Linked DNA regions of Homo sapiens: all the other regions are reported to be linked to region 1. Evidence: microRNA targets listed by miRTarBase, many of them from high-throughput screens and not tested one by one. Region 1 holds a microRNA gene; each other region holds the end of a gene's coding sequence.

Evidence for each region. Region 1 holds the annotated microRNA hsa-miR-650 (AGGAGGCAGCGCUCUCAGGAC, at 1,914-1,934, opposite strand). A microRNA usually pairs through its seed, bases 2 to 8, with sites in the 3' UTR of a target mRNA and lowers its output. Matches are read on the target gene's strand: a 7mer-m8 pairs with bases 2 to 8, a 7mer-A1 pairs with bases 2 to 7 and ends in A, and an 8mer does both.
Region 2: miRTarBase lists PSD4 as a target of hsa-miR-650. Seed matches in the 3' UTR shown: 7mer-A1 at 2,038-2,044, 7mer-m8 at 2,401-2,407 and 7mer-m8 at 2,587-2,593.
Region 3: miRTarBase lists OCIAD2 as a target of hsa-miR-650. The part of its 3' UTR that is shown has no 7-base or 8-base seed match.
Region 4: the mRNA of PLXNB1 is a reported target of hsa-miR-650. Seed matches in the 3' UTR shown: 7mer-m8 at 883-889.
Region 5: miRTarBase lists LYRM4 as a target of hsa-miR-650. The part of its 3' UTR that is shown has no 7-base or 8-base seed match.
Region 6: miRTarBase lists ITGA11 as a target of hsa-miR-650. Seed matches in the 3' UTR shown: 7mer-m8 at 1,544-1,550.
Region 7: the mRNA of BLOC1S5 is a reported target of hsa-miR-650. The part of its 3' UTR that is shown has no 7-base or 8-base seed match.

What each region holds. Positions count from the first base shown.
Region 1 is chr22:22,820,103-22,824,724 of GRCh38, reverse strand. MIR650 (microRNA 650) reads right to left here and starts at 1,949; the gene lies at 1,854-1,949. It overlaps LOC105372948 (a long non-coding RNA gene), which reads left to right. Exons shown (of 4, transcript XR_938047.2): 4 at 3,089-3,744. It also overlaps IGL and IGLV2-8.
Region 2 is chr2:113,200,152-113,204,773 of GRCh38, forward strand. It overlaps PSD4 (pleckstrin and Sec7 domain containing 4), which reads left to right. Exons shown (of 17, transcript NM_012455.3): 17 at 1,007-4,622. The coding sequence ends at 1,264. Among named protein-coding and RNA genes, the nearest start is that of PSD4, 28 kb to the left of the region's middle. RefSeq lists enhancers at 3,734-3,783, 4,124-4,173.
Region 3 is chr4:48,881,587-48,886,208 of GRCh38, reverse strand. It overlaps OCIAD2 (OCIA domain containing 2), which reads left to right. Exons shown (of 7, transcript NM_001014446.3): 7 at 644-1,190. The coding sequence ends at 725. Among named protein-coding and RNA genes, the nearest start is that of OCIAD2, 23 kb to the left of the region's middle.
Region 4 is chr3:48,400,359-48,404,980 of GRCh38, reverse strand. It overlaps PLXNB1 (plexin B1), which reads left to right. Exons shown (of 38, transcript NM_001130082.3): 38 at 391-1,127. The coding sequence ends at 495. Among named protein-coding and RNA genes, the nearest start is that of PLXNB1, 27 kb to the left of the region's middle.
Region 5 is chr6:5,105,847-5,110,468 of GRCh38, reverse strand. LYRM4 (LYR motif containing 4) reads left to right here. Exons shown (of 3, transcript NM_020408.6): 3 at 978-2,050. The coding sequence ends at 1,046. All of the region lies in intron 3 of LYRM4-AS1 (LYRM4 antisense RNA 1), which reads right to left. Among named protein-coding and RNA genes, the nearest start is that of PPP1R3G, 23 kb to the right of the region's middle.
Region 6 is chr15:68,299,599-68,303,598 of GRCh38, reverse strand. ITGA11 (integrin subunit alpha 11) reads left to right here. Exons shown (of 30, transcript NM_001004439.2): 30 at 469-4,000. The coding sequence ends at 540. Among named protein-coding and RNA genes, the nearest start is that of FEM1B, 24 kb to the right of the region's middle.
Region 7 is chr6:8,011,611-8,016,232 of GRCh38, reverse strand. BLOC1S5 (biogenesis of lysosomal organelles complex 1 subunit 5) reads left to right here. Exons shown (of 5, transcript NM_201280.3): 5 at 405-2,666. The coding sequence ends at 584. The region is part of intron 4 of BLOC1S5-TXNDC5 (BLOC1S5-TXNDC5 readthrough (NMD candidate)); the gene reads left to right. It overlaps EEF1E1-BLOC1S5 (EEF1E1-BLOC1S5 readthrough (NMD candidate)), which reads left to right. Exons shown (of 7, transcript NR_037618.1): 7 at 405-2,666. Among named protein-coding and RNA genes, the nearest start is that of BLOC1S5, 50 kb to the left of the region's middle. RefSeq lists a silencer at 3,974-4,182.

The DNA of each region.
Region 1 (4,622 bases):
TTTTACATGGAGGACAAGGACAGGGGCCTTCACTCCACTCTCTCCTTTATCCTTGAGATGATCTACATCTGCCAAAGAGGTTAGGAACTGCGGAAGTCTCCCAGCCAGAGGGAGGCTTCCACAGCCAGAGGGAGGCTTCCACAGCCAGAGGGAGGCTTCCACAGTTCCTAACCTCTTTGGCAGATGTAGCCTGAATGCAGCCTGGCCTGACAGCTTGGCTGCAACCTCGTGATTAACCAGGAGCGAGAATGACCAAACTAAGCTACTCCCAATTCTAGGTGCATCCAAGTCACAAGGTCACAGACATGTGTTCTCTTAGTGTGCTAAGTTTTGTGAGTGTTTTTTTATGCATCAATAGACAATACACTTTGGTTTTTGAAATAAATTTTAGTGTTTATATTTCAGGTACACAACATGATGTTATATAGTAGTTACTTTGTAAATATATATAGTAAACTAGTTACTTTGTTTTAAATATAATCTGTATAATCGAAGTTTAAGGAGCCTAAACTATATATGATAATAGCTGTATTTAACAACTGGCTCAGAAAATTTAAATATTGGACCCAGCTAATGTCCGAATGTGTTCTAAATCAATTCTCACCATTAGATTATTAGGGATTCCAGGTACAAAAGTATTGACAGCCATGAAAATTAGAAATGCTCGATGTCCATGAGGAAGGGAGGTGGACTCAGGTTAACTCTTTCCTGTGGAGCCATTTTGGAATCCCCCATCCTATGGGAAGACCGTCCACTTGTGAGGAGTTTCCAGGACAGGGCCTCAGCGATGTGAGGGGAGGAGAATTCTGCGAGAGCACTGAGCCTGTCACTCAAAATCTCCCCAGCTCAGCAACCTGAGGAATTTCGGCAAAGAGCAGGAGCAATAAAAAGAAAAACAGCAGCATCCTCTTTGTTCTTAATCCCTCAAAAACATCTTCAAGTCTTCTTAAAGTGGTCACTTTAAGCTAGGAGGGCCATCTTCATTAGAGCGTGGTGGACACAGAGTGGAACAAGATGCAATTCCTGGAAACTGGAAGCCATCCCCCTGATGGCTTCTGTCCAGATTGATCTGCATAGTGTGACAGATGGGGGATGCATTTAGAATGAGGATGTTCCTGAAAACAGGAGGGACTGCACCAAGCAGTAAACTCCTTGTCCCTACGTCCCTGCATTGAAGAGCTAGGAATAGTTGCACGTTAAGGGACCAGAGCACACAAGCAAAAGGAAGTTGCCACAGTCCTGAACGAGAAATCACGAGCAGGTTTCCTTTTAGACCTCATGGTGGGAAAGGAGAGGAGCTGAGAGAGGAGAATTGTCAAGGCCATCCTGCAGGAAACCCTTATACAGCGTGAGGAAGCATCTGCAGAGCAAGAAGGGGGCCTGAGAGCCCAGGGCAGGTTTTGATCTTACTTCCTCATTGACTTAAAACACTGTGGAAATTGTTGCTGCCTGCATATGAGCTGCAGTAATAATCAGCCTCATCCTCAGCCTGGAGCCCAGAGACGGTCAGGGAGGCCGTGTTGCCAGACTTGGAGCCAGAGAAGCGATCAGGGACCCCTGAGGGCCGCTTACTGACCTCATAAATCATGAGTTTGGGGGCTTTGCCTGGGTGCTGTTGGTACCAGGAGACATAGTTATAACCACCAACGTCACTGCTGGTTCCAGTGCAGGAGATGGTGACTGACTGTCCAGGAGACCCGGACGCGGAGGGAGGCTGAGTCAGGGCAGACTGGGCCCAGGACCCTGGAAAGGGAGAAACACAGTCTAGTGAGTCAGTGCTGGGCCCAGGTGAGCCTGAGGAGCAGGAGACCAAGGATCAGCCCAGAGGTCCCTGTGGCCCCTTCCCTGGAGGCATCACCTGTGCCCTGAGTGAGGAGGGTGAGGAGGAGCAGAGCCCAGGCCATGGTGGTGACGTCCTGAGAGCGCTGCCTCCTGAGACCCCAGCACTGGGCCTGCCCCCAGCCCTGTCTTATCCCCTCTGCCTCAGAGAAGGGCGGGACCTCCATGCAAATCTGCATCCTGAGCTCCTCTTCTCACCCCACCCTCACTTGGGCCTGGGCTTAGAGACTTCTGCTTCCCTTGACAGCGGGGCTCAGCCAAGGAGACTAAAGTCCCTGATTGTCTATTCTGATGACAGGAAGTTGATTTCTTTGCACGTGATTTGCTCAGGAGAGAAAAATCTGCTGAAGCCCCTCACCTGAGTGAGCTCTTGGCCCTCAGTGTCTCTGCTGTGTGGTGCCTGTGTCTCTGTGACCCTCCAGGCCTGGGCACACCTCGAAGTAACCTCTTTCTGGCACTCATTGCCAGGTTCTCTCTATTCTCAGGAAATGGGGCTGCCCAACCCCACTGGAAGCCTCTGCTGGGTGGCGTTGGTCCCTGGTCTGCCCAGCGGCAGCCTCGTCCCATCCCCACTCCCATGCTTTGTCCTGAAGCATCTGCACCATCAAATCCCTGGAGCACATCAGCCACCCCAGGCAGTGCACCCACATCCACACGGGCACATGTGGGTGGGACCCTGTGAAGGGAACAAGGAGCACCAACCAGGGCCACAGTCCTGAGCCTGAGTCCGCTGCTCCCAATCCTGCCCCTCCCACTCATGAGCAGGTGACTTGTCCTTCCCAGCCTCTGGTTCTCAGCCTGATAAATGGAGACCACAGAGTCCGTTCTGCATACAGGTGATCCATGGGGATATGAGCCAGCAGGGAAAAGGGAAAGTTTGCTAACAGGCCTTTCTATGTGCACCAGAGTGATGTTATCTTGAAAGGTTTATTGAAAGATTTACTTCCATTTTACTGTGATTTATGTGTCAGGTCACAGAGATGCACGTTTCCGGCTTTCTTACTTTCCCCCATCTGAGCACATCCTCAGGACAACCTAAAGCTGACCTCTCTCAACCCTTCGACACTGAAGACACACAGACATTCAATAAAGACATTTTTAGTTTTTCCTCCAAATGCGTTTAATCTTTCTTCATCTTTCCCCATTGCCTATGATGCAACTCTTTTAATGTTCCATATTAAAATAACTATTAAGGGATTCAGGTTCTATTTAAATATTGTAACATACACTATCCTGTCTTCCCATCTAGATTGAGCTATAAAACCATGACAAGTGCATGGAGCAGCTATTTGAGCACCAGGAAAGGAAATGGTACGCAGCAGTTTGGGATGGCCCCAGCAGATGAAATACAACAGAGTCAGTGTGAGACTGCTGGATTTCCTCACTGTCCCCTGGCTGGGACTCCAGACAGCCCCAAACCTGAAGGGGCACAAACCTGAAAACAAAAAGAAGTCCAGAAAGCCCTCTTGTTCAGGATCGAACTTGGGAAAGAAAACTTATTTGGCTCAAAGTGAAGGCTCAGTCCCCTGCACAAGCAGGTGGTTCACACCTGTGTTCTCATCTCTCTTATACCAGCGCCTCTCCCTGGGTTCACACTGATGTCCTATGGATGGAGACGGGGCTTCCTGCACCAGGTCACTCCACAGCCCCTGTAACCTGAAGCCCTGCAGACCAGCCTTGTTCAATCACAATGTGATGTGAGCCTCATGGGAATCCCACTGTCTAGTCATCATGTTATAAATACAAAGAGAAGAAGTCAATGAGTTTAAATAATGTATTTTATTTACCTAGCATATCAAAAAGAGTATCATTTTCATATATAATCTAAGTACAATTATTTATGATATATATCATATACTTTGCATGGCTATTGTTATTATTTTTTGAAGAATCTTTATGTGGAGATTGTGTGGCTGATGGAGATGTGAATGGGTTTCCTGTTGACAAGGGTGGGTTGTGGTGGCTTTTTAAGTGTCAACTTTGATAGGCTGGAGGAGGGGTGGAAAGAATGATTTTTTACACAGGATGTGGAGGGTGGAGGTAGGCAGTGTCCATACTTAAGCTCACCCTGTGGGTGCATCTGTGGTCCCTGCATGGGGTAAGGCTGCTCCTCCTGCCCCAGGTTTCCCTGCAGGGAGATCTGACTCCAACTCTCCCTTAGACCCCAGAGCACCTGGCGAGTCAGGCTCCCTTCTCATTCCATGCAAATGCAAGAAACACTCAGATCTCATTGGGCGTGTGGATACTCACAGTGCTAATTTAGGAATAAACAGGTGCTTTCCAGCATACAGTGGCCTCCTGAAGTCCCACATGGCCCATGTTGGGGATGGCTGGTGATCTTAATTGGGTTCCCTGGAAGCAGACTCTGAGATGAGGAATTGCATGCACAGAGGATGTGAAAGGAGGTGAGGGAGGCAACCCTGGGCAGGAGACCCTGACCCTCATTGAGGTCTCAAGTCTTTCCTACAGAGAGCTGTGGAGCTGGGAGGATTTTCAGGTCTTCCTATATTGAGGCAGAGTCGAGAACTCGGCCTCAGGCAGTCATGAAATCTAACCTCACTGAGAAAGGGCATAGACCTGGAGGAGTCTGTTTTCTGCACCGAACAGCACTTTACAGTGAGGACACAGCTCTGACCTGCCAGAAGCTCCCAGTAGTGCTTAGTGGGTAAGCTCAGAACAGGGGATCTGGGCAGATCCCACAGTGTCTACTCCATTGGTGTTTCTCTAAAGAATGACAGGCTACCACAGGAGCCTGAGCTGGGCAGTTCTGGGGACTGATCTAG
Region 2 (4,622 bases), not on the chromosome of region 1:
CATGTTGAAATGTTTTATCCCTTAGTCTCCCCCAACCCTCACCCATCCACCCACACTCCCCAATTCTGCTTTGGTGTGACGTCAGTTCATCTGGGATCCTAACACTGGGTGCCTGCTTCAGGGATCCTGGGTGCCTGCTTAGGGTGAGGGCCCACTGGGCAGGAAGGGTAGGTGAATGCAATGTGAAAATAGAGGGAATCAGAGGCCACCCAGAGGCAGAGACCAGGAAGTGGGAGTCAACATCGCCTCCTGCCTGTCCCCGCTGTGCCCGCATGCAGCCCTCTGCCTGTCTTTCAAGGTCCCAGGCTATCCCTTGGCTTGTTGGTTGTATCCATGGCTGTGAACTCCCCACTTCTCAGAGGCCTCAGGGTGTGGCTGTGAGGACCCAACCTCTTCCTCCCACTGACCAGCTGGGACCTTTAACAAGTCACCAGCCCTCCCTTCCGCAATGATTTGTCCCCTCCCAGGGCTGGCATGAGGATCCAATGGGATGGAGGGTGAGGAAGCACTTTGTAAACTGGAAACCATATCCCAAGGATGCTAGCTGCAGGGGCCTCAGGAGTACAGTGTTAAGTAGATGAGGGTAGTTAGCATCATGCTCCACAGATGCCAATTGTTAAAATGCTATTTAGACCCAATTAGGGCTGTACAGATGTGAGCTGTTTGTGTGTAGGGCTGCAAAGATCTCAGGCATAGTGGGTGACACATCTTTTAGTGCCTCAAAGATGGAACATGGCATAGAGATGTTAGTTACAGCACTCCAAGGGGTTGGTTATTATTAGAACAGGGCTGGGCTGATATGTGTCATTATAATACTATCCAGAGGTGTGCTCTGCAGTCTGCTTATCCAAGCATTATACTGACACTCACGGTTGGTCCAGCCCTCTTTCTGTCGAGGTCTGTATCGCCATAGCTTCATGTACCTGTGAGCTGTCCCTCACGATTCTAGCCTCCTCCCAACCTGGAGCCAGGATGGTGCTAAGGTGGTGGGGCCTGTGTGTTGCAGAAAACCCGCTACGAGACCTACGTGCAGCTGCTGGTGGCCCGCCTGCACTGCCCCTCTGATGCTCTGGACCTGTGGGAGGAGCAGCTGGGGAGGGAAGCTGGAGGCACTCGGGAGCCCAAGCTCAGCCTGAAGAAGTCCCACTCGAGCCCGTCCCTGCACCAGGATGAGGCTCCCACCACGGCCAAGGTGAAGCGCAACATCTCAGAGCGCAGAACCTACCGGAAGATCATCCCTAAGCGGAACCGCAATCAGCTGTGAAGCCAGCACCACCTCAGAGACACTGTTCCCTGCTCCAGGGTAGACCTGAGATGAACCTCCCTGGAGGAGACTTATTTCAATGAGTCCACCATGACGGATGAGGCACCTCCTTTCCCTGCTGAAGGACAAACCTTGTTTCCCTGTGGCCCTCATTCTTGTGCTCCCTGAAGCTTTCCTAATATTGCTGTGCTCCCCACCACCCCCATGGCAGTCCCTCCGCAGCCCCAGTCCCTGGCCACGCCCAAGGGAAGAGGGAGGTGAGGACTTGACTTTCCTCCCAGAGCTCAGCCCATGTCACCCTCCAGGCCCCAGAATCCAGAGTGGCCTCATTTCCTAGACTTGCTGAGAACTCAGCACTTGTTTGAGAACCAGTGCTTATGTGGTGTGCCCTTGGCTTCTGGGGGAGAGCTTGGGGCAGCAGAGGCCCCTGGGCAGCCCAGCCAGGGGAGCCACAGCCCCAAGGATGGTCTTGCTCTGGGAATTAGGTGACCTTCCTGGGGAGGCCCCAGGAGAGTGAATCAGGGACTCTTGAGAAATTCCTAACCAGCCTCCTGTGACCCAGGGAGCAGGGTCGCTAAGGTCCTGCCCACTGAGGGGACAGCCTTCTGGGCAGGGACCTCGGGGGGCTTCAAGGGCTCTGCACGGCTGTGGGGCCCTGTGCCTTTGTCTCCTTGTGTCTCCTTTCCCCCGAAGTAGATGAAACAGTCTCACATACCCAACTGCTCATCAACAGAGCAGAGCTGATGGCATGAGTGAGGGCTGGGCGGGGTGGGGCCTCCAGAGCTTTGCAGGGAACCCTGGAACCCTAGGAACAAGGAGCCTTTGTTCCAACAGAGCAGAGAAGGAGGTTCTCTATGTTCAGACCACTGGAGAGGATAGAGAGGTAAAAGGTGGCGACAGTTTCCCTTAGGGGTCTGCCTGGCAGGAGCCACAGCTCAGGAGAGTTGTGAGGGATGGGACGGAGGCTGGCGACCAGGCGAGGCCTAGGCCAGGCTCGGGAGACTTTTCTGTGCTCCTTTCTACACATGCCTTAAACCTTCCTTCCTGTGGGGTGCCTGGACCCCTTCCCCATCTCTGGCAGCTCAGAGGGTCTCTGCTGCTCTCCCCTGGGAAATCCCCTCATCCTGCCCTCTGGCTGCCTCCCAGCTGGGCTTGTTCTCTGAGGGAGGTTCCGGAGACTCATGGACTTGGGGCTCTGCCTGTAGGAAGGAGGCTGGGCCGGAGGGACCAGCCACCATTGTCTCTGTTCAGCCAAGTGTGCAAGTAGGCTGCCCGCCAAGAGGGGGCCTCTGCTACCCGCTGCTGCCTGCCGGCTGACACACTGCCTCCCCAGCCTTCCTGCTAGGCCACCCTCCTCCCTTCCCATGCTTGTAACCAGCTCTGGGGCTTGCACCTCCACAAAGTAAGGTTGGCCCTTGGAGGCCATGTTTGGGTCTCCGGCCAGGGCCTAGGGCTAGGCCATGCACCCAATGGGTGCACAATAAATAACAGGTCAACAAAGAGGGAGGTGTGTCAGTGTGTGAGGAAGGGAGGTCAGGCAGCTAGGACCACCTGCAGTGTGGCAGGCTTCATCCCTCTTTGCTCCAAGTGTGTATGTGTGTCTGTGCATGTGTGTAGTGTCTGTGTCTGTGTGTTCATGCATATGCAGGAGTCACACGGTCATAGGCCATCAAAGCTGGAGGAGACCTCAGAATCATTCATTCACCTACTTGCTCATTTATTCATTCATTCATTTTGCAGATAATATGGGACGCTTTCTATGTGCCAGTACCAGGGGATTCACAAATGAATTAAACATGTCCCTGACTCCATGAGTTGACAATCTTGCCCACTGGTTTCCTGCTCTCAGTTTACAGAGGCACTTTTATCTTGCTGGGGAAGTGTGCTGAAAAGACACATTCCCAGCCCACACCCAGGGATGCTGATTCAGTCAGCCTGGGTCAGAGGGATAGATAAATATGTTTAAAGCTCCTTGGGTAATTCTGATGTGTAAGTAGCAGTTAGCTGCAGTAGAGTCCAATTGCCTCATTTGATTGAAGTGGAATCCCAGCATCAAGTGGACATGACTTTTGGCCCAAGACTGATGCTTACAAACTAAGTGGAGTAGGTTATTTGACCTCACTGAACATGCATCCTTTTTTTTTTTTTTTTTTTTTTTTTTTTTTGGAGACGGAGTTTCGCTCTTGTAACCCAGGCTGGAGTGCAATGGTGTGATCTTGGCTGACTGCAACCTCCACTGAATCAAGCGATTCTCCTGCCTCAGCCTCCCAAGTAGCTAGGATTACAGGCGTGTGCCACCACGCCCGGCTATTTTTTGTATTTTTAGTAGAGATGGGGTTTCGTCATGTTGGCTAGGCTGGTCTCGAACTCCTGACCTCAGGTAGTCTGCCTGCCTCGGCCCCCCAAAGTGCTGGGATTACAGGCGTGAACCACCACACCTGGCCTATGCATCCTTATTTCTAAAACCATGATAAAAGGTGAAAGTCTGAATGCATGTGTGTGTGACACTTTGATGCTCCTTTGCTCATGTAGAACCGGCACCTCTCTTTCACCTGAGCACGTGGAATCTTCAGAGCCAGATGATGGTGGCTGCCTGGCCTGCCATAGTCAATGCTGCCCAGGCACCTCTGCCTGGAGGGTCTGGGTTGTGGGCTGCAGTTATGACATGTGACCACTTGGAGGCAGGCTTGCATCTTTCTAGCTTCTGGCTGCTCAGGTGTCCTGCTGTGGAGCTGAGCTGTGCTCCCTGAAAGGCAGGAAGTTATTATGTGTGCCCCTGTGCCATCACCGAACCAGGACCTTCAACTTCGTAAAACCCACAGTGGCCTGGGCCAGGACTCCCACCATCTAGGGAAGCCTCTCCTAGGGAAAAGACTGGGGCTCTGACATCTTCCTGCAGATGGAGAGAAAGAAAGACATCTCAGAAGTCTATGGGGACAGCCTACAGCTCCCCACAGGGTTGCTCCAGGTAACGCTGGAAGGTGAAAGCTGAGCAGGCTCCAGTCCCCATCCTAGGTATGGAACAGATCAAACCACCACAGGCCTATGTCTGACCTTGTTCCCACCCCATGCTCCTCTCCCACCTGTGTCCTTCTCTTTGCAGGAGAAGGGACAGACAGAGGTTCTCAGTGATGAGCTCAGGCTCTGGAAGGGCACTTGAAGTTTGGCTTTAGTTCTTCCTTTCCCATATAGGGGAGCTCAGCTTCCAGGGTCCTGGGCCTGCTGTGACCCAGGTTGTTACTCCTGATATAACTGCTTCCTGGGCTCTCATGATCTCAGCTGAGCCTGGCTTTCTGCTGATGATATTTGTTTGTTGCTTGCCAGGCACCAGGGTAGATAAAAAGATCACCAAGACCCG
Region 3 (4,622 bases), not on the chromosome of region 1:
ACAAAAACAAGAAATAAGGAAAGGATTCCCTATTTAATAAATGGTGCTGGGAAAACTGGCTAGCCATATGTAGAAAGCTGAAACTGGATCCCTTTCTTACACCTTATACAAAAATTAATTCAAGATGGATTAATGACTTAAATGTTAGACCTAAAACCATAAAAATCCTAGAAGAAAACCTAGGCAATACCATTCAGGACATAGGCATGGGCAAGGACTTCATGTCTAAAACACCAAAAGCGATGGTAACAAAGGCCGAAATTGACAAATGGGATGTTATTAAGCTAAAGAGCTTCTGCACAGCAAAAGAAACTACCTTCAGAGTGAACAGGCAACCTACAGAATGGGAGAATACTCCTATTATTTCTGAAAAAACAAGGCTAGTGAACTTTAGCATAGACTATATTTCTAATATTGTGTTAAAGCCAGGTGCAGTGGTTCATGCCTGTAGTCTCAGCTACTCAAGAGGGTTGGGTGGGAGGATCCCTTGAGCCCTCGAGACCAGCCTGGGCAACATAGATAGACTCCCCCCACATCTCTATTAAAAAGATTATGTTAAAATAATAAGAATAATATGTTATGTAAAGACTAGGGCTTCCAGTGTCAAAGTACAAACCGCTGTCTATTTTTGCTTCTCTTCTAGGCACTGCCTCCTTACCTGTGAGGAATGCAAAATAAAGCATGGATTAAGTGAGAAGGGAGACTCTCAGCCTTCAGCTTCCTAAATTCTGTGTCTGTGACTTTCGAAGTTTTTTAAACCTCTGAATTTGTACACATTTAAAATTTCAAGTGTACTTTAAAATAAAATACTTCTAATGGAACAAAAACATTGTGTCTGTCACTCACTGAAATGTATTCCGTGGAAGGCTTTCAAGTGAACTAAGCGTTACATGTTTTTCTGCTCTTTAAGAACATGTCGGGGCATGGCGCAGTGGCTCATGCCTGTAATCCCAGTACTTTGGGAGGCCGAGGCAGGCAGATCATTTGAGGTCAGGAGTTCATGACCAGCTTGGCCAACATGGTGAAACCCCATCTCTGCTAAAAATATAAAAATTAGCCAGGCGTGGTGGCACATGCCTGTAATCCCAGCTACTGAGAGGGAGGCTGAGGCAGGAGAATCACTTGAACCCAGGAGGCGAAAGTTGCAGCGAGCAGAGATTGTGCCACTGCACTCCAGCCTGGGTGCCAGAGCTAGACTCCATCACACACACACACACACACACACACACACACACACACACACACACACACAACATGTTAGGAATCCTCACACACACACAAATGACATTGCACCCCCACCCCAACTTGCTTACAGCTAAATAAGAGAATTAAGTCTTCTCAGATTAGCCTCTATTCTTTCTTTTACTCTGCTTTTTTTTTCAGTGTTTTAAGTTATCTGATAGAGAATTGGAATTAATGTTGAAGAAGTTAGGAAGTCATGACCCCAAGAAAATTAATGTGTATGGAGATAGAAACAGGACAAGACTGACTTACAGGTATGAGAAGGGCTTCCTAAAATGTAGGGGCAACATTTTTAACTTAGTGAAAAGTGTTTTGTTGGAAAGGGTCAAAATATGAATCAACTATCCTTTCAGTGCTCCAGGTGACCTTATGGTTCAACAGTATGGTTCAACAGTGGAGTTTTGGAAGTGACCATTGTCTTTTTTTGTTTTTGTTTTTGTTTTTGTTTTGGTTTTTGTTTTGGTTTTTGTTTTGGTTTTTGTTTTTGTTTTGAGACAGGGTCTTGCTCTGTCACCCAGACTGGAGTGCAATGGCATGATCATAGCTCACTGCAGCTTCGACCTCCCAGGTTCAAGCCACCCTCCCACCTCACCCTCCCAAGTAGCTGGGATTACAGGTGTGTGCCATCATGCCCACTATTTTTGTAGTTTTTGTAGAGGGGGGGTTTTGCCATGTTTCCCAGACTGGTGTTGAACTCCTGAGCTCAAGCAATCCACCTACCTCTGCCTCCCAAAGTGCTAGAATTATAGGTGTGAGCCACCATGCCTGGCCTCTTTGTCTTTAGGTTATCTGCTTAGCAAATGGGCACATGCTTATGGGCAGCCCTCAAGAATGGGGTTCTTTCATATACTACTAGTGGCCTGAAACAAGAAACACAACTTCCCAAATTGTCTCTCATTTTCCCCAAGGAACAACTTATTTATGGGAGGAATCACTGGAATAATTAATACATGGAATGATAAATTTAGAATTCTAGGGAGTTCAGAGGCAGCCAATGCAACTCCAGGGGTTGGACTCCTATTCTCCTGTCAGATTTGTTGCATGAAAACAACAATAACAAAATCTGGCCAAGTGCAGTGGCTCACACCTGTAATCCTAACACTTTGGGAGGCCAAGGCGGGCAGATCACTGGAGGAGTTTGAGACCAGCCTGGCCAACATGGTAAAATGCTGTCTCTACTAAAAATACAAAAATTAATCGGGCATGGTGGTGCATGCCTGTAATCCCAGCTACTGGGGAGACTGAGGCACGAGAATCTCTTGAATTGGAGAGGTGGAGGTTGCAGTGAGCCAAGATAGTGCCACTGCACTCCACTCTGGGCAACAGAGTGAGACTCTGTCTAAAAAAAAAAAAAAAAATTAAGAAAGAAAGGAAAAAAAAAGAAACCCTTCCATGTGGGAACCTTTTGTTTTATGTATGACAGGTTGTCTGAGCCCTACAGAAAAACTACTCTTGCATCTTTGCAACTTCTCAGAAGAATGCTTTATATATGTATCATCATTTATATCAATATATAGGCAAGGTGCAGTGGCTCACACCTGTAATCCCAGCACTTTGGGAGGCTAAGGTAGGTAGATCACTTGAGGTCAGGAGTTTGAGACCAGCCTGGCCAATATGATGAAACCCCACCTCTACTAAAAATGCAAAAATAGCCCGGTGTGGTGGCACATGCCTGTAGTCGCAGGTACTCAGGAGGCTAAGGCAGGAGAATTGCTTGAACCCGGGAGATGGAAGTTGCAGCGAGCAGAGATTGTGCCACTGCACTCCAGCCTGGGTGACAGAGCGAGACTCTATCTCAAAAAAAAAATATATATATATATAGATAGATAGATAGATGATAGATAGATAGATAGATAGATACATAGATAGATACATAGATAGATAGATATATAAGAGGTTTGTGTATGTACACATTTGGGTTTTACTTAATACATCTTGAACATGTATCATGGAAGTTAAAAGAGAAACTTCATTAAAAGTTAATCGTTTACATGAAATATTTTATTTTAAACATCAAATTATACAGAAGTTTTAATTTTTACATGAACATTAAGAGTAAGCCTCTTTTTATATTACGTATGCTATTTTTTCAGTCCATAAAGTTTTATTTCTGTAAATCAGAATGCAAAGCCAATATCCTATCATCTTAAATGCAAGTTTAACTCTTGTCTCTGATAACTAGCAGTTGGTGACTCTTTGTTATCTCAGCTATTGGCAAAAATTCAGAATTGGGCACATTTATTTCCTACTCCCCAGAAAATGATTTCCTAGGGATCAGAACATTTCACATTGCTTAGCACAGCAAGTCAATGTAAAAAATCTATCCCAAGGTACTGGGGAAAGATACATTTATTTTATTTATTTTTATTTTTATTTTTATTTTTTTTTTATTTTTTTGAGACGGAGTCTTGCTCTGTCACCCAGGCTGGAGTGCAGTGGTGCGATCTCGGCCAACTGCCTCCCGGGTTCATGCCATTCTCCTACCTCAGCCTCTTAAGTAACTGGGACTATAGTCACCCGCCCCCAAGCCTGGCTAAGTTTTTGTATTTTTAGTAGAGATGGGGTTTCACCGTATTAGCCAGGATAGTCTCCATCTCCTGACCTCGTGATCCACCTGCCTCAGCCTCCCAAAGTGCTGGGCCACTGGGGTGAGCCACTGCACCTGGCCAATACATTTATTATTGTTGAAAGGAGCATTGTTTTTACAGATGACATCTTCATAGTTCTTCTCAATCAAATTGGGTTTATTGCTTGGGCTTTCTACATTTCCTACGTAGAGAAGTTATTCATTGAAGCAGTTTATCATGACGATCTATCTTAGAGTGAAAGAAAATCAATAAGGAAAAAACTGGAAGTTCATCCAAGAGGCTTTGATTATTCTGCTGCTATTTTTTTGGGTTTCTTGTTCGTTTGTTTTGTTTTGTTTTGCTTGTCTGTCGCCCAGGTGGACTTCAGTGGCACAATCTTGACTCACTGCAACCTCTGCCTCCCAGGTTCAAGTGATTCTCCTGTCTCAGACTCCTCAGTAGCTGAGATTACAGGCATGCACCACCACGGCTGGCTAAATTTTTGGCATTTTTAGTGGAGACAAGGTTTCACCATGTTGGCCAGGCTGGTCTCAAACTCCTGACCTCAAGGGTTCCACCTGCCTCAGCCTCCCAAAGTGCTAGGATTACAGGCATGAGGCACCGCACCCAGCTGCCTATCTATTGTACATATTAGAAAGCTAGTACCTGGGGGAGAATGTCTGTTTCTTGTGTTAAAGGAACAGCACCTGCCTTTTGACATTTCACCATTACCAACACTCATCACAAAGCTGGTCACAAGCTTATGAAAGCAGTACCTTCATGATAAAAAAAAAAAAAGAAAAAAACTTGGAA
Region 4 (4,622 bases), not on the chromosome of region 1:
GTTTGATCAGTGTCTGTTTTCCCACCACGTGTCTGGTCATTCTTGGGTCTCTGCCCCTTGTCTGGCACCGGGCAGACAGGAACTTGGGAAATACTGTTGGCTGGCGGGTGGGTTAGCCAGGATGGCTGCAGCAGGGCTTCTGAGGAGCTCGCTACTGAGTCAGGTCCTTCATTTCCTACCTTATTCATCCTGGAACCCCGCGGTGACTTTGATGTTATTACCCCTCCCGCCAGCGAGGCCCTGAGGTCCCAGAAAGTACGTGAAGTGACCGGCTGGGTTTCTTGGCCTCCTACCCCACTCATGCCACAGCGTCTTAGGAGGGCTGTTGAATTTTGCAGCAAACACGTTGGCCAAAGAAGTCTCCCCTGATGGCATTGGTCTCTGTTTCAGATCATCACTGCCCTGGAGGAGGATGGCACGGCCCAGAAGATGCAGCTGGGCTATCGGCTCCAGCAGATTGCAGCTGCTGTGGAAAACAAGGTCACAGATCTATAGGAACCCAGGAGCCACGGCCTGCTGTTGCTTCAGCCTGGCCTGGGCAGCCCTGGAAGCTCGGAGGAGAGGCCACCTTCTTAGGTGCCTGTAGTGACTGACAAGCAGAGTTAGTGGAAGGTGACTCCCAGTCTCCTGGTGGCTCTGGCCTCGGCCCTGCTGGATCCACCTCCTAGACCCGGGGCCTCAAGGCTCATGGGGTAGTACCCAGCCTGCTCCCCGAGTCCAGCGACCCTGTGACACCGGTCTGCAGGGAGTTGGGGACTAAGGGCTTCCAGAGAGTGGCTGGAAGAGACTCCAGGCCCCTGGGGAGACTGTACTGTTCCTGAACACTGGCCTTGGCCACACTGGGATTCGGAGAGGAAGGAGGAGAGCCCCATGCTTCCTGTCTGCCTCCTCCACCATCCCTGACCTCAGTTGAGCTGCCTCTGGCCTTGTTGCTGCTGCCACATCCTAGGTCTAAGAGTTGAACGCCTCTCCTAGGCCACTACAAACTGACCCCTCAGCAGGGCTGGCTGCCACAGGGCTGCCCTGCCTCATAGGTAGCCATGGTGAGGGCTATCTGCTGCAGGGGGGTCTTGGGGAGAGTGGTGACTCCATTGACCCAGCTTTTCATTAAAGGATAACACACTGCACTGAGTCTGATGTGTGAGCCCGGCCTAGCCCCTGGCTACTAGGAGGACGGCAGCTATGCCCAGCAGGTACCAGGGGGAGGTGGTATCTATACTCTTGGGGAGTCTCATGGTTCCCCATCATATCCCAGACTGCAGGGCTGGCTGAGGCTCTCCTTGACGCCTGGGCAGGGTCTGGTGGGGTCAAAGCTTCCGTGAAGGAAGAACCCCATCTGGGGCAGGGCGGGTGACCGAGATAGAGGGGTCTACAGTCTCTTCAAGGGGGCCTGCTTTATCTGCAGTTTGCGTATTCTCACTTCTCCACTCATGTTCTATTTATCTTGAAAGGGACTAGGAAAGGATGACATAATTACAGGCAACTCTAGGCAGAGGGGGTCTCGAGGGCCATTTTCCATGGTCCTGTTCCTGGACTTAGGGTTTCTGTGTTGCCTTCCAAATCAGGGCATCCTAGGGCCGGCTCCTAAACTGTCTGCCTCCATGAAGGCCGCCTTATATGGTTCTTCCTGATTTGTACCTGGAGGTGAGCTTGGAGACTGTCTTATCTGGTCTCATGTTGCTAGTTGGGTCTGTAGGGCAGGGGGTTGATACTCCTCTTGACTTGAGACCACCCTCGGCCTTAGCAGAAGGCCAGCCCCCCATGGAACAGAAGAGATAGGGTGGCAGCTCTGCCTGGCAGATGAGAGGAAGGCCCTTCAGCCTTGAGGCCTTCAGAGGGATCATCCCTTTGGCCCTCTGCTTATCCTCCATAACCCAGTGACCCTTAGCATTTCCTCTCGTCTGGCACAGAGACCACAACCTCCCCTCGAGGTCTTCATTGAGTGTTTAGAGAGAGACAGACTGATAGAATTCCAGGAGGACTCCTATCCCCTGCCTTTTTTTGGCCCTAAATAAAGCCATCCACTGTAGGGTTGCCCCTACAATCCACAAAGTCCTTGTCCCTAAGGAGCCATGTTGGTCTTGTCTGTGCCGGGGGTAGTCATAGCTGCTATTCTTCGCTGTGGCTCCATTGTCCCTTCTTTCCCATTTCTGCCGGATGTGGGGACCACAGTCAGGTCAGCAGCCAGGTGCCATCATTTGGGAGCATGTGAGCTTGGATGCTCTGGCCAGGTTTTCATAGCCACCCAGAATGGTCCTGACTTTTCCCGTTGGAGACCATGGAATGGGTCTCCATCTTGACCATCTCTGGGAGCAGGGTGGATGGGAAATCCACTTGAGGGTGGACTTCAAGCAGACACAGAGGGAAGCAGCCTTGGTCAGCACCACAGACCTCGACAGAGCCATGCCTCTGTTCCAGAGGCCTCTCTGTTCCAGGTTCAGGCCCCTGCAGGTTTTAGGGGTAGGTGAAGGCTCCCGGGAGAGGGGGGCCATGTGCCTGCAAGCCTGGGCACGTGCCCGCGGGAGGGGTGAGTACTGAACGTGCTTTGAGTCACTCACTGAGTCATGGCTCAGCCGCCACAGAACATTGTTATAATAACAGACATAGAGAAGAAAAACCTGGCACAAGAAGATAGGAAATTCTGTCTTCACTCCAAACCATGACCAAGAATGGAGATTCCAACACCAGCAAGAATTTGTGATCGCTTAACTTGGGTCATGACCACAATTTCAGCATAGAACATTTGTAATTCAGTTTGATCAATCTTTTCCTAATTTTTATTAAGACTGCAACGAAAGTGTGCCCTCATTATTACATTTTTCACAAACCTGTTAGCATACAAAGGGCCTTTGTTTCTCATTACCACCCGGGGCTCCTTAAGGCGTTTTATGGAGTGATGTGCTTTATTAAAAAGCGTTTTCACCAACTTAAAAGTTGGAATAATTGTCCAAATGGTTACATGACCCAGGAGTTCTATATTTTTATTAATTTTCTGATACTGAAATAATCGTGCTAATTAAGATAACAGCTGAATTTATGCTGATGAATGTTGGAATTCTTAGAAGCCACCTGAAACCTTCCAAATGGTCAGGACCTGGATCCCACTGGCCAGTGCCAACAGGTGACTCTGGGTGGTGCTGGGGGATACAGGGAACCTAGCTGTGTTCTGCTTGGCACCAATGGCTGCTGATGCATGTGTTTCCTCCACCAGGTTCCCTAAGGATGCCACATTGAAGAACAAATACACCCCAAACTACCTAGGTCAGCTGACTGGCGATGTTTTATGGATCTCTCTTTAAAAGTGTTCTGTCGGCCAGGCGCAGTGGCTCACCCCTGTAATCCCAACACTTTGGGAGGCCGAGGCAGGCGGATCATCTGAGGTCAGGAGTTTGAGACCAGCCTGCCCAACATGGCAAAACCCCGTCTCTTCTAAAAATACAAAAAATTAGCCAGGTGTGGTGGCGGGCGCCTCTCATCCCAGCTACTCAGGAGGCTGAGACAGGAGAATCGCTTGAACCCGGGAGGCGGAGGTTGCACTGAGTCGAGATCGCGCCACTGCACTCCAGCCTGGGTGACGAGCAAAACTCCATCTCAAAAAAAAAAAAAAAAAAGTGTTCTCTGTCTTAATTAAGGATGATGGTTTATCCAATTCCAAATGTTTACCAAAAATCTAAGATAAGGATATCACCATGATGTTTGAAAGAGAATTTATGCCCTGGTTGTGATGTTGGGGTTTTATTGATAAGAGTTTCAGTTATCTGGATGATATGTGCACGTGTAAGGAAACAGAATGGTTTGCCAGTTGTCCAGGTGGCCATGAAGAGAACCTCTGGAGGTCTAGGAATGTGAAGCTCAGATTTTGGAAACCTGGTCCGGTGTCCTGGGCCACAGGTAAGTGGCTGAAGCTGGTGGTTTGCTGCCATCTTCTGGCCATAGTGTGGAATTTATCAGAAGCAGCTACCAATGAGGGTGTCTGGAGCTCTATAAATTGCAAGCCTGGGCAAGATAGCCAGACCCCATCTTTACGAAAACTGTTTAAAAATTAGCTGGGCATGGTAGCACACATCTGTAGTCTCAGCTATTTAAGAGGTTGAGGTGGGAGGATTGCTGGACTCCAGGAGTTTGAGGCTGCAGTGAAAGATTATGCCACTCCACTCCAGACTGGGTGACAGTGAGACCCTGTCTCTTCAAAAAAAGAGAGAGAGAAATCACAACAGTGGAATTCAGTAGTGCTGGAGCTTAGTGAGTAATCTTACCCTGTCTTTAACGTGAATTCTGGTTTTAGGGTGAGCTATGTCTTAGGACATAGTTGAGATAACAGTGAGTGACTAGTCAAGAAAACAGCCGGGCACAGTGGCTCACACCTGTAATCCCAGCACTTTGGGAGGCCAAGGTGGGTGGATCACTTGAGGTCAGGAGTTCGAGACCACCCTGATCAACATGGTGAAACCCCATCTCTACTGAAAATACAGAAATTAGCCGGGTGTGATTGTGTGCACCTGTGATCCCAGCTACTGGGGAGGCTGAGGAAGGAAAATCACTTGAACCTGGGAGGCAGAGGTTTCAGTGAGCTGAGATTATGCCACCACACTCCAGCCTGAGCTGAGATTATGCCACCACAC
Region 5 (4,622 bases), not on the chromosome of region 1:
ACCTCAGATGGACGGCGCGGCGGTCCTTGGTGACAGAGCACTGCTCTTTAACACATGCTGTAGTAATGACATGATCGCCTTCTGTCCGGGGCCTTCACTTCGAAATAGAGCACTAAGATCGGGGAGGAAAACCATGAGGATGTTGACCCCTGGCTGCTCTGTTTGCTTAAACAGCAGTTACTCACCCCGAATTACCCATAGATAGTGACCAACTGGTCTGAAATCCAGATAGAGTTGCTAATGATCAGCCCTTCCTTCACCCATTCCACTTGTTCTTAAAAATGTATCACTCAGGAAATGCTTTACAGAAAAACTGTGGCAAGACCCTTTGTTGCAGAGGAAAGACCTGCTCTAGCCCCAGAGGATGGCTCCAGCATCCACCTGGGACAGTGGAAACATTGGGCATTAAGACACTTAATAAAAAGGACACTTTAAAAAGAAGGGGGCAGGAAAGATAGAAGGCAGGAGGTGCAGGCACTCAGACAACTGCCCTCGACCCCACCCGGGATGGGCCACGGACAGGTGTCTGCATTGCCCTGAATGCAGCGCTTTTCCTACCCCAGCATAGACGGCGCCCATTTCTGCACTGTTCTAAAACCCCTTCCCTATGCGAGAATCAGTTCTAAGGGAAGGAAGCCCTCTTAGGAGAGGAGGTACTGGGCACACATCTGACAGCTCTGCCACCAGCAGGCAGGCGTCACCCAGCTCAGCACAGCCCCGAGTCCCAGGCTGCAGCCTCCTGTGCTGTTTCAGAGGGGAGGAATGGGTGTGTGGATCTCTGTAACTTCTCACAGTGAGGGAAACGGGGGTTGGATGGTGCTCTAGTGGCCGGCTTTGCCCCGCAGTGCAGTTGCCGGAAGGGAGCAGCCCTGGGATGGCCGACGTTTGTATTAGAAATGTTAGGAAATGTTCCTTCTGGCCTTTCCCAGGGGCTAGAGGGCCACGGTTCCTGACCTGTGTCCTTTCTTTGCCTTCAGGTCCACATTGGCCAACTGTATTCAACTGACAAGCTGATCATTGAGAATCGAGACATGCCCAGGACCTAGCAAGCCGGGGACCAGCCACCAGTGGCGGCCAGGGACCACCTTCAGCATCCACTCTCTGTTTGAGATGGGGGCTCCCAAAACCAGCTTACAATAGCCTTTTGCGCTGCCTGTCCTGTGGGAGCTGATAAACCAAGTCACATTTGCATTCTGTTGCAGGCTTAGTGAAAAAGGACTGCTGTCTTTCCTTGGTTCAAGTGTTAGAATGGAGAGCTGGAGTTCGTTCAGAATAGTGCTGTGTGTTACCACGTCTCCCCTGCACCCCATTCCTACCTTGTAGCTCATGACCATTGTGTATAGCATTTCTACACTTTGTTTCTTGGTCCTTGGCAATAAAAAGAATGATCTCCCTGAGCCTTTGACCCCAGATAAACCCCTCCCAATTAATGCATTTTCATTTCCTACTGATACAAGGCCTGGAGAGGGCTGTTGGGGGCCCTCAGGGAGGGTTCAACTCTGAGACGAGAACTGCCTTGGTGAAGGCAAGTTCAAGCACCACTTGAGACTGGGGGCAGCATGGAGTAGGGCAGGGCTACGGGGATACACGGTGCACCCTGCAACTTATACCTGAGCCCAGTACAACAAAGGTGACGGGTGTGTAGGTACACACCCAGAGATGGAGCACTGCAGATCAGCAACCTCAGCCCCACCTGGGAATTTGCTGGAAATGCAGGCTCAAGCCCCTCCCCACACCTGGTGAATGAGAGAGCCCCAGCCTGACCCAAGCCCAGGGCGACTCCCATACCCTGAAGCCTGGGGCATGCTGGGCAGCACCGGTGCCCAAATCTGGCTGGTGGACAGAAGCACCTGGAGAGTTGGAGAGCTTTTTAAAAAGACATCTCTCAGCACTTCCCTCTCTGCAGATTCTGACTCAGTAAGTGAGGGGTGAGGCACAGTCATTTTTCTCTATTCTGAAGCTCTCCCACTGTTTTCAATGTTTAACCAACTGGGGACCCCTGCTCTTTAAGTATATTACAGGTAATAAAGATATTGTTTGTATGCTTTTATTCTTGGAAACAGATTCATTCCAAACATAGAAAGAACATATTAAATAACTTGCTTGTCATCTGGGGAGTTTACGAGGGACCAGACCTGGCAGAGCGGTTTCTTGTTTCCCTTTGCATACAGTGCTCAGTGGATTTGGTATCTGTGGGTTAAGGTTTGGAACAGGCTCCTATAAATAGCACCGGTCCTGGAATAGCTGCAGCACTGTCACCCCCTCATTTTAACTCCGACGGTCATGGGAGTGAGTACGCACTGTCTGAGCCCGTGTTCTTCTCACCCTCATATGAGAACTCATGTCTTCCAGTCGCTTTTAGAGAGCATAGATTTGCTGCAATGATGCGTTCAAATAGATGTAACGTGTAGCCATTCTATTTGGCAGTACAACTTTTGATTTCAGGATAAAGTCTTTTTTTTTGAGATGGAGTCTCGCTCTGTCACCCAGGCTGGAGTGCAGCGGTGCGATCTTGGCTCACTGCAACCTCCACCTCCTGGGTTCAAGCCATTCTCCTGCCTCAGCCTCCCGAGTAGCTGGGATTACAGGGGCCTGCCACCACGCCCAGCTAATTTTTTGTATTTTTAATAGAGACGGGGTTTCACTATGTTGGCCAGGCTGGTCTTGAACTCCTCGGCCCCCCAAAGTGCTGGTATTACAGGCATGAACCACCACCCCCTGCCAATTTCAGGATAAAGTCCTGAGCATCTGTGAAAATAATGAAGCTCTTAGCAAGTCCCAGATCTCTTACCCTCTAACCAGTTCCTGCCTGGGAGCTGCAGTGTTAGAGCATATGCAAAGCCCTAATTGGGGGAGAGCTGTTCGGTGGACAGTGAACGGAGGTGATGTGGCAAGTATAATCACTCCCTTCAGCTGACTGTCACGGGGCAGAGCCGCCCAGCCCAGCCCTGTGTGTGGCTCTGGCTCAGGTTTTCCACCTTGCATCAGTGCAGTGGAGTTCGTGGTCACTCAGCAGTGAATGCATCCAACCACGCTACTAACGCACGGCACTGCTGATTTATACTTAATTTAAGCAACTGCTACTTGGAACCGAAGTCCAGATTTGAACCTCCGTGCTGAAGGCATCAAATTGCCGGCAAGATAACAGCTCCAGAGGAGACTTCTCCCACTCCCCCAGGTTTTACGCAATGAGGCAGTCCACCCAAACTTAACGTGGGCTGCAGGCTGTAACAGCAGGTTGCTTTTGTGTTCATTAAACTGCATGAATGGGTTTGAACATGCCCAAAGCCTTGCTAATGCAGACTTAATTTTGTAAAATTAACTATGCCTTTGGAATCTGCAGAAAGATACAAATCCGAATTCTGTGGCAGGAAACGCCACAAACAGGCCTTGGTCCTCCACCTTTCAGGTGTATATCTGGCAGGCAGAGCCTGGCACTGGGTACTCCCCAACTGAGATGACCCAATATTGATGCTAGAGCTTCGAATAAAGTGGCATTCCCATGGGGGTGACCCCTGGTGTTTCTCTAGGGAAGTATTCCACCTCCTTGACTATGCACCAACTGAGGGGAATGTGGGCAACTCCAACATCCATCATGGCCAGCCTCACAGAACTCTCTAGAACTTGTGCCTGCTTTGAAGATAGGATCCGGGCTGGGGTCTGGAGATCACTTTGCAGCACTAATATTGAGCAAATGAGAACTACTATCATTAGTTAACTTCCCAGGCAGAACTCATTGGCCGAGCAAGGCTATATCCTAGACTTTCAGAGACAGCTCTGGGCTGGGCTGGCTGTCATGACATAATAGCTGGGAGATCTTGCACGGCCAAGTACAGGGCTGTGTTGTTCTGATGGCTGTTGGAATCTGGATTTTGGAACTGAAAGAATTGGCTAGATTGCTTTAGGTATACTCCGTCCTGCTGCTAACTAAGTAGCAGTGACCTTTAACTCCCTTCATCCACAGCCTCTCCCGTTAATCTCAAGCCCCACCATACAACCCACCATCATCCAGGAGCAAAAGGGACAGGCAGAGGGTGAAGCCTACAAAGATGACAAACATCAGAGCTCACCTAGTCCAACCCTCAAATCTTCAGGTGTTAAAACAAAGAGCCTGAACATCTGCAGATCACGTACAGAGTCAGGGCCTTTCCCCTAAACCCCTTTCACTCATTCATTTATTCACTCAGTATTGACTAAGGCCACCTAGTGCCAGGTGCCAGGTGCCAGGGAGCAACCAGTGAACAAGACAGACGTACCTTCATAAAGCCTGTGTCTAGCAGGGAAATCTGAGAAGAAAATGACAAGTCTTATGAATGTTACAAAGAGGGAAATATGAGTGCTGCCAGAGCCGATGGGACGGGCCAGGGAAGGGCTCCCCAGGGGATATTTACACGTGCAAATTAATGATGAGGATTGGCTGTGTGAAGGTGGGGAGAGGAGCTCTCTAGGCAGGAGGAACAGCACATGCAAAGCCCTTAATTGGGGGAGAGGGTAGTTCCATGCAAAGAACTAAAGGGAGTCTGGGATGGTGGCAGCCAAGGAAGAGGGCTCTTTCCACATCGTGGACGGCCTTGGAGCCTCAGCCTAAGGATGGTGAGCAACTCGGGAGTTTTTAGGCAAGA
Region 6 (4,000 bases), not on the chromosome of region 1:
CTCTAACCTGTTTGTGGATGCCTTTGAGAACCTGATGAAAACTAAGGTTCCTATTATTAGAGAAAAAAAAAAAAAGCAAGTACAAACAACTGCACAAAATTTCTCCCACAATGTCAAGCTGTTAACAAACCTCCCGAAGTCCATCTCTGTCTCTGAAGCTCTGGTTACAAACCCCTGGTCTCAGCCTCCTCCTGTTACAGATGAAGGAGGCCCAGAGAGGGATGTTGGCTGGGGCTGGTCACACAGCAAGATGGGCACTAGTATGACTTCTTGCATGCAGCCCATGGTCTCATCCACTGTGTTCCAGTCCACAGAGGCAGTTCTGGAGGAGGGGGTGCTCAGAATGAGCTGGGGGTACTCAAGGAAGCCCTGAGGGAGGAATCCCAAGGAAAGGTAGTGGAGGGAAAGCTGGGGCAGGCCTTGCCCACCCTGTCCTCCTCTGAGACGTCTCCCTTTGCCTCCTCACAGCTCGGCTTCTTTAGAAGTGCCAGGCGCAGGAGGGAGCCTGGTCTGGACCCCACCCCCAAAGTGCTGGAGTGAGGCTCCAGAGGAGACTTTGAGTTGATGGGGGCCAGGACACCAGTCCAGGTAGTGTTGAGACCCAGGCCTGTGGCCCCACCGAGCTGGAGCGGAGAGGAAGCCAGCTGGCTTTGCACTTGACCTCATCTCCCGAGCAATGGCGCCTGCTCCCTCCAGAATGGAACTCAAGCTGGTTTTAAGTGGAACTGCCCTACTGGGAGACTGGGACACCTTTAACACAGACCCCTAGGGATTTAAAGGGACACCCCTACACACACCCAGGCCCATGCCAAGGCCTCCCTCAGGCTCTGTGGAGGGCATTTGCTGCCCCAGCTACTAAGGTGCTAGGAATTCGTAATCATCCCCATCCTCCAGAGAAACCCAGGGAGGAAGACTGTAAATACGAACCCAATCTGCACACTCCAGGCCTCTAGTTCCAGAAGGATCCAAGACAAAACAGATCTGAATTCTGCCCTTTTCTCTCACCCATCCCACCCCTCCATTGGCTCCCAAGTCACACCCACTCCCTTCCCCATAGATAGGCCCCTGGGGCTCCCGAAGAATGAACCCAAGAGCAAGGGCTTGATGGTGACAGCTGCAAGCCAGGGATGAAGAAAGACTCTGAGATGTGGAGACTGATGGCCAGGCAAGTGGGACCAGGATACTGGACGCTGTCCTGAGATGAGAGGTAGCCGGGCTCTGCACCCACGTGCATTCACATTGACCGCAACTCACACATTCCCCCACCAGCTGCAGCCCCTTGCTCTCAGCTGCCAACCCTCCCGGGTCACTTTTGTTCCCAGGTACCTCATGGGAAGCATGTGGATGACACAATCCCTGGGGCTGTGCATTCCCACGTCTTCTTGCTGCAGCCTGCCCCTAGACATGGACGCACCGGCCTGGCTGCAGCTGGGCAGCAGGGGTAGGGGTAGGGAGCCTCCCCTCCCTGTATCACCCCCTCCCTACACACACACACACACACACACACACACACACACACACACACACACACACACACACACACTGCCTCCCATCCTTCCCTCATGCCCGCCAGTGCACAGGGAAGGGCTTGGCCAGCGCTGTTGAGGGGTCCCCTCTGGAATGCACTGAATAAAGCACGTGCAAGGACTCCCGGAGCCTGTGCAGCCTTGGTGGCAAATATCTCATCTGCCGGCCCCCAGGACAAGTGGTATGACCAGTGATAATGCCCCAAGGACAAGGGGCGTGCCTGGCGCCCAGTGGAGTAATTTATGCCTTAGTCTTGTTTTGAGGTAGAAATGCAAGGGGGACACATGAAAGGCATCAGTCCCCCTGTGCATAGTACGACCTTTACTGTCGTATTTTTGAAAAATTAAAAATACAGTGTTTAAAAACAACCAAGCACTGACATCCCATTCTGTGGGCAGAGCATATCACAGTGAGCCATACTCCCCTTTGAAGGAGAGGAAGTAGAATGAGGGAGTTCCTTGCTTCCTCCCCCCTACCTCTACATGTCAGAAGGGACTCATCCACCATTTGCTGCCCACAACATGCCCTCCTAGTGGCTGCCTGGCCTCCGTGTGACGTCTCCAGTGGTGGAGCGCTCCCTCTCCCAAGATCACCCTTCCATCTATGGCCAGTGTGGACGGTTAGGACCTAAATGTTTCACTGTAGCTTCTGCCCTTGGTTCCAGCTCTTCCCTCTCACGCCTCCCAGACTTCTCCAGGCCGGTTTCATTGTTAACCGTCTTACACTCTGACATCAGCCAAGGCGTCTCCATTCTGTTCTTGTGCCATTCATGTCTTGGATTCCCAGTAAGTAGAACCTTGGAAATAATTTGATCTTGTTTTTGCATAAATGAGGACACTCAGAACCAGGAAGAGCCCTAGGCTCCCACAGCAAAACCAAAACTAAACCCAGGACTGCTATTTCCCAAGCCAGATTCTGTTATTCGAGCCCAGCCTTAGAAGGGCTTGATGTGGAGCAAAAGGTGAAAATGGTGAAACTAAAATTTGAGTATCAAAACCCATTGCCTTCTAATAGAATCAGAAGGAAATGTTGCTAAATCATATTCCATTTCCGTCATCACTCTTATGAATGGGGTAACCTGGCTAAATGAGAATTAATGAACCCACACTCATAAGTTTTCATTGACTTAGCACCAAGTCGTCCATCAAATATCATCAGATCTGAGAATGCTCTTATGGATATCTGATTTTTAGAGGCTGGCATTCATATTTTTAAAAACTGCCACCTGTGACCACACTGCAGGCCAAACAGAATGTACCTGCTGGTCAGATGCAGCCCAGAGGTCACTGAATTGCAACCTCTGGACTCTCGGTCAGAGGCAAGCAGCCCTTATTCCAGAACTCCACAGTCCTTCACACCCTTCCCCAGACCTACACCAAGACCAACTAAGTGGTCAAAAGGTGGACAAACTGAGAGTTGTATCAAGGCCCTTAGCCTCTCAATTTGTTATCAAGTTTCCCTTTCTGAATCTATTTACCCTGAAGTATAAATACCCAAGATGAGCCTTAAGAGTGCCTGGTAGAGCAAACAAAGATGCATCTTATAGGGAGCAAAGTCTATGCTAACGCAGTGTTTCTCAATCCTGGCTGCACCTTTGAACCACGGGAGCTTTAAAAGTGACCACTGCAAGGGCCCTACCCACTATGGATCCCAATTTCATTGGTTGGGAGAGGGGCCAAGTTTGTTTCCAACTTCCCCAGATGACTCTAATGGCTGAGAGTTGCAATCAACAGGTAAGTGAATATCCAGGCTGTAAGATGAAGAAAGAGGGGGTTGTGCCCAAGCCCACTGTGCCTCATAAAGCAGATGATCTCTGCAGCGCTGCGCTTCTCAAAGAGTGGTCCCAGGACTGCCTCAGTCAGACCACAGACTCCTAAGTTCCTCCTCAGACTTCATGGATCCAAGCTCTGTGAGGTAATTCTAAGCACATTAAACTTGTAGAACAGCCATCTGGATTTAATATTACATAATAGCTATAATATTCTGCTATTCTCTAATCTTCAATGTCAGTTTCTTAAACTGTCAGGCCTGTCTTTAGATGCCCTTCAACTGTGCTGGGGACTATCTTGATGGCAGCCAGCAAAGAAAATCAGCAAAAACCCCAGTGGAGTTTCTGGGTTTTACTTTTGTTAAGGAAGGTGATGGTTTCTTGACATGACAGGTATCTAGGTGGAAAGGGCAAAGTGCTAATGCAAACACAATGGAGACACTATGGAATAGCTCTGCCTAGGGACATGTGGAAGAGCTTCTAGGAGACAGTGTGGACCTTTCCATCCCTAGAGGTCTTCACAAGATAAATTCCTACCTCCGTCAGTATTCAAAAGGTTTTAGCATCAATACTGTCTGAGAATAAGACATTAGACTTGAGTCAGTCCCCTGGCTTCAATCCCAGGATGCCAAGCAGCCTCTAATGGAGACCGCTGGCTTAATCGTGCTCCTTTCCTGGCATAACAACTCACTGCACCCATGCCTC
Region 7 (4,622 bases), not on the chromosome of region 1:
CACCTCAGCCTCCCGAGTAGCTGGAACTACAGCCATGTGCCACCACGCCCAGCTAATTTTTGTATTTTTAGTAGAGACGGAGTTTTGCCATGTTGGCCAGGCTGGTCTCAAACTCCTTACTTGAGGTGATCCACCGGCTTCGGCCTCCCAGAATGCTGGGATTACAGGCATTAGCCACTGTGCCCAGCCCACTTTTAAAATTTAAGAAATGAGAATATCCATGTTTAATTTTAATGAGAGAAGCCTTAGATGTTTCTAATGTGTCATCTTTTTTTGGATATTATAACACAACTTTTTCCTTGTGACTTACCAGCTGATTGTTACGGTAACCAAGTATCAAGAGATAACGTTATGAAATAATTGTCTGGAAAATGTCGTGTGACTTTCTAATTTTCTTTTCTCAGATTCATAGTGACCACTTAGTAGCTAGTGAGAAACAGCATATGCTCCAGTGGGACAACTTCATGAAGGAGCAACCCAACAAAAGGGCTGAAGTGGATGAAGAGCACAGAAAAGCCATGGAAAGGCTTAAAGAACAATATGCTGAGATGGAGAAGGACCTAGCGAAATTTTCAACCTTTTAAGAACTTGAACCACAACAATCACAAACTAATGAGAAGATGTTCACCTCTCTCCTGAAAACTATTCCCACCAGACCGTTTAGCCTCTGCTTCAAGCTTAGCAATATATTCAGTGGCACTCTTATATCAGAAGAAAGAAGTTTCTACTGGCATTCTGATTGGATATTTAAAGAAGGGTGCCACATTTTTCCAGCTTTAAGTGCCTATATATGATTATTTGAATGAAGAGGAGTAGGAAGGAAAATGGAATCAATATACTCTTTGTTAGTCAGAATTGATCATCTTTTCCATTGATTAGCTCAGAGAACTGTAGGTATAGACTTCTTAGAAAGATAATTTCATTCATTTCTATACAGGGTTAACAATAGTTTATTATTGTGGCTTAATGGGAAGGTATAGAAGCTACCTGTCATAGCCTCCTTGGCTGTTGGAAGGATGTATAAAGTGTTACTGCATGAGTAATGTAGACAAAAAAAAAAGCCAGCTGTCCTTGGAGCAGAGATCACATTTCAGAGAGGTGAGAGTGAACACATTGTCTCTGCTGTGGCAAAGATGGCCACGCTGGTGTTTGAGCTGCCTCTTGGGAAGCGTTGCATATTTTACAGTGCAGCATAATGCCATGGGCTTCCGTGGATGGGAAGACACATGTTAAGTTTTGTGGCCTTCCAGCACTTACTATTTTCAGCTTTTTAAAGCATGCTTAGAAGGAAAAGCTTACCAAAAATATATTTTGACATTTAGTTTTTCCAAGAGCTATAATCTTGCCCATAGTATTTACCTCATTTTTGTGTCTGTTTTGCTGTGGGTAAGCTTTATAAGATAAATAATGTCTATACATGTTTCGACTGTTTAATGAGTAATCAACAAAATCTGCCAGAGAGTCCCTCTGGAACCATATAAAGTTCCTGGCTTTGAATGAACCAGAAGTGTTTGCCCACACAGCAAATGGTCCATGTTAAATGTAAATCCTTTTTAGTGTTAATGTCTGTTCTCATAAGCAGGTATATTATGATGAAACATGTACCAGTTCTGTCATCACTGTGATCTTTAAAAACCTGCATTTAACAGTCTAATTTGAGGCTGGGTGCAGTGGCTCACACCTGTAATCTCAACACTTTGGGAGGCCGAGGCAGGCGGATCATTTGAAGTCAGGAGTTCAAGCCTAGCCTGGCCAACATGGTGAAACCCCGTCTCTACTAAAAATACAAAAATTAGCCCGGCATGTTGGTGCACGCTTGTAATCCCAGCTACTCAGGAGTCTGAGGCACGAGAATCACCTGAACTCAGGAGGCGGAGGTTGCGGTGAGCTGAGATGGCACCACTGCACTCCAGCTTGGGTGACAGAGTGAGACTCCATCTCAACAAAAAAAAAATCTAACTGAAGAACTAAGTTGATTTTTTATTTGCCATAAACCAAGCAAAAGTAAATGCAATAATTTCGAGATTTATGGTAAACAAATTTGAGGTATGGATAAATCTTTCACATATTTTTTATTGCTCTTTAGTAAAGAAAGGCACAAGAAAGAAAATATCCAGCTCTCTTGTGTTATCTCAGTGTGGCGACTGCAGAAAATTGACAATGCCTGCCTGTGTAAATGTATGGCTTACTGTCAAAGCTTCATTCTTGGCTGCATGTTGAAAATGTGATTAAAGTTAATAGAGGAGATGAAATAAGTATTTGAGATTTTTTTCAATAACACTGAACTTCTGCCAACTTTCTCTATCCGCTACTGTAGGCTTGACAGGCTCATCAATCATTTGCTGGTACCTGGACTAAAAAGCGCACTTGCTGACACCAAGGCATGTTGGAATTTTCTTAATTCAGTGGATGGAAAAAGAAATACTTCCAAAAATATCCCACACATGAAAAGGGAGGGGAGCCTTAAATGAAAATTCCCTTTGTACCGTAGACACTTTTTGGAATGCGATTAATTGCCAACACATCATTGAACGAATGCTGTAACCAAGAAATTAAGATTGTGTGTGTGAAGGGAATATATTCTTAACTGTGGCTACCCAACTTGTATAGCAAAGATTTCTGATAGTTTGTGTTCATCTCATGTGAATAATAAATACTTTACCCTATAAGTTTGTTTATTATTCCATAAATACCTAAGGGACTTCCTAAACCAAAATGAATTGATGGGCTTTTTGAGCTTTAGACATTAAGATACTCAATTGTTTCTTGTAACATTTTTAACTATTCAACATAGCTTCTATAAGAGTTGGTTTATTTACCTTCCTTTTGATATTCGACATAGCTTCTATAAGAGTTGGTTTATTTACCTTCCTTTTGATATTTTTAGTGGTGAACGCTTTTGCTTCTGTTTCCTAGTTGCCAAATCACTTTTTATATATATTTTATTTATATGTAAAAAACAATTTTAATAACTACATAATTTGTAACATTTCTTTCCTTTTTTTTTTTTTTTTTTGCGCGACAGAGTCTCACTGTGTCACCCAGGCTGGAGTGCAGTGGCGCGATCTCGGCTCACTGCAAACTTTGCCTCCTGGGTTCAAGCAATTCTTGTTCCTCAGCCTCCTGAGTAGCTGATATTACAGGCATGTACAACCATGCCCAGCTAATTTTTATATTTTTAGTAGAGAAGGGGTTTCACCATGTTGGCCAGGCTGGTCTCGAACTCTTGACCTCAAGTGATCTGCCCACTTCAGCCTCCCAAAGTGCTGGGATTACAGGCATGAGCCACTGTGCCTAGCCAGTTTGTAACATTTCTGCTGTGTTTGTGCTGTTGAGCAGAGATATTGTGGGTTCTATGTAGCTCATAGGATTATTGCAATGATCAAATGAAATAATGTTTTATAATTTTAAAGCACCATAGAAAGATTTGTTAAGTTCTATGTATTTTTAATTTTTAATTATGATTTCTTTCTCGACTAACATATGTATGAGGCTTTTTTTTCCCATTTCCTAGCGTGTATATTTTTAAATTCTGTGTTTATTGATTCCTGTTTTAATTGAATTTGAATTGTGGACAGAAAATAGGTACATGTTAAGACTGATCTGTTAATATTTGTTGAGATTTGCTTTATGACCTAGATTATAACCTGTTTTTGTAAATGTTTCATGATTGCTTGAAAAGTATGCTTGTTTTTTAGTTGTTGGATGTCCATTAGACCAAAGTTGTTAATTTTGTAGTTCAAATTTTTTCCATTTTACTATTCTTTTGTCTTCTACTTGATCTCTCAGACTCTGAGATGTGTTGAAATTTTCTATTCTAGTGAACTTACCAATTTCTCCCTGTAATTCTGTCAATTTTAGTTTTATATATTTTTATATATTTTGAAGTCTTGTTATAAATAAATAATTATAAATATATACATAAATATAAAAATACATAAACTATATATTATATTTATATGGATTATGCCAGCTAGCTGGATTTATAGGATATATCTTTTTTCATCCTTCTGTTAAACCTTGCTGTTATGTTTTAGATATGCCCTTTAAAAACTGTGTGACTGGGGCCGGGGACGGTGGCTCACGCCTGTAATCCCAGCACTTTGGGAGGGCGAGGCGGGCAGATCACGAGGTCAGGAGATTGAGACCATCCTGGCCAACATGGTGAAATCCCATCTCTACTAAAAATACAAAAATTAGCTGGGCGTGGTGGTGTGCACCTGTAGTCCCAGCTACTCAGGAGGCTGAGGCAGGAGAATTGCTTGAGCCCAGGAGGCAGAGGTTGCAGTGAGCCGAGATTGCGCCACTGCACTCCAGCCTTGGTTACAGAGCGAGACTCTGTCTTAAAAAAAAAAAAAACTGTGTGGCTGGATGTTTTTCTTTCTTTCTGATCATTTGTCAACTAAGGAGTTCAATCCATTTACATTTGTCAAAGTTACTGATATATTAAGATTTATTTGTATCATCTTATTTTGTGCTTTTTGTCCCACCTTTTCTGTTTCTTGACTTCTTTCAGCTTGAGTTTGTTTTGTTTCATTTTTCCATCTACTTTTCTTCTGCTGCTTTCAAAGTTAAACATTTCCCAGTTTCCAAATCAGTTTTGATATGTATTTTATTTATAT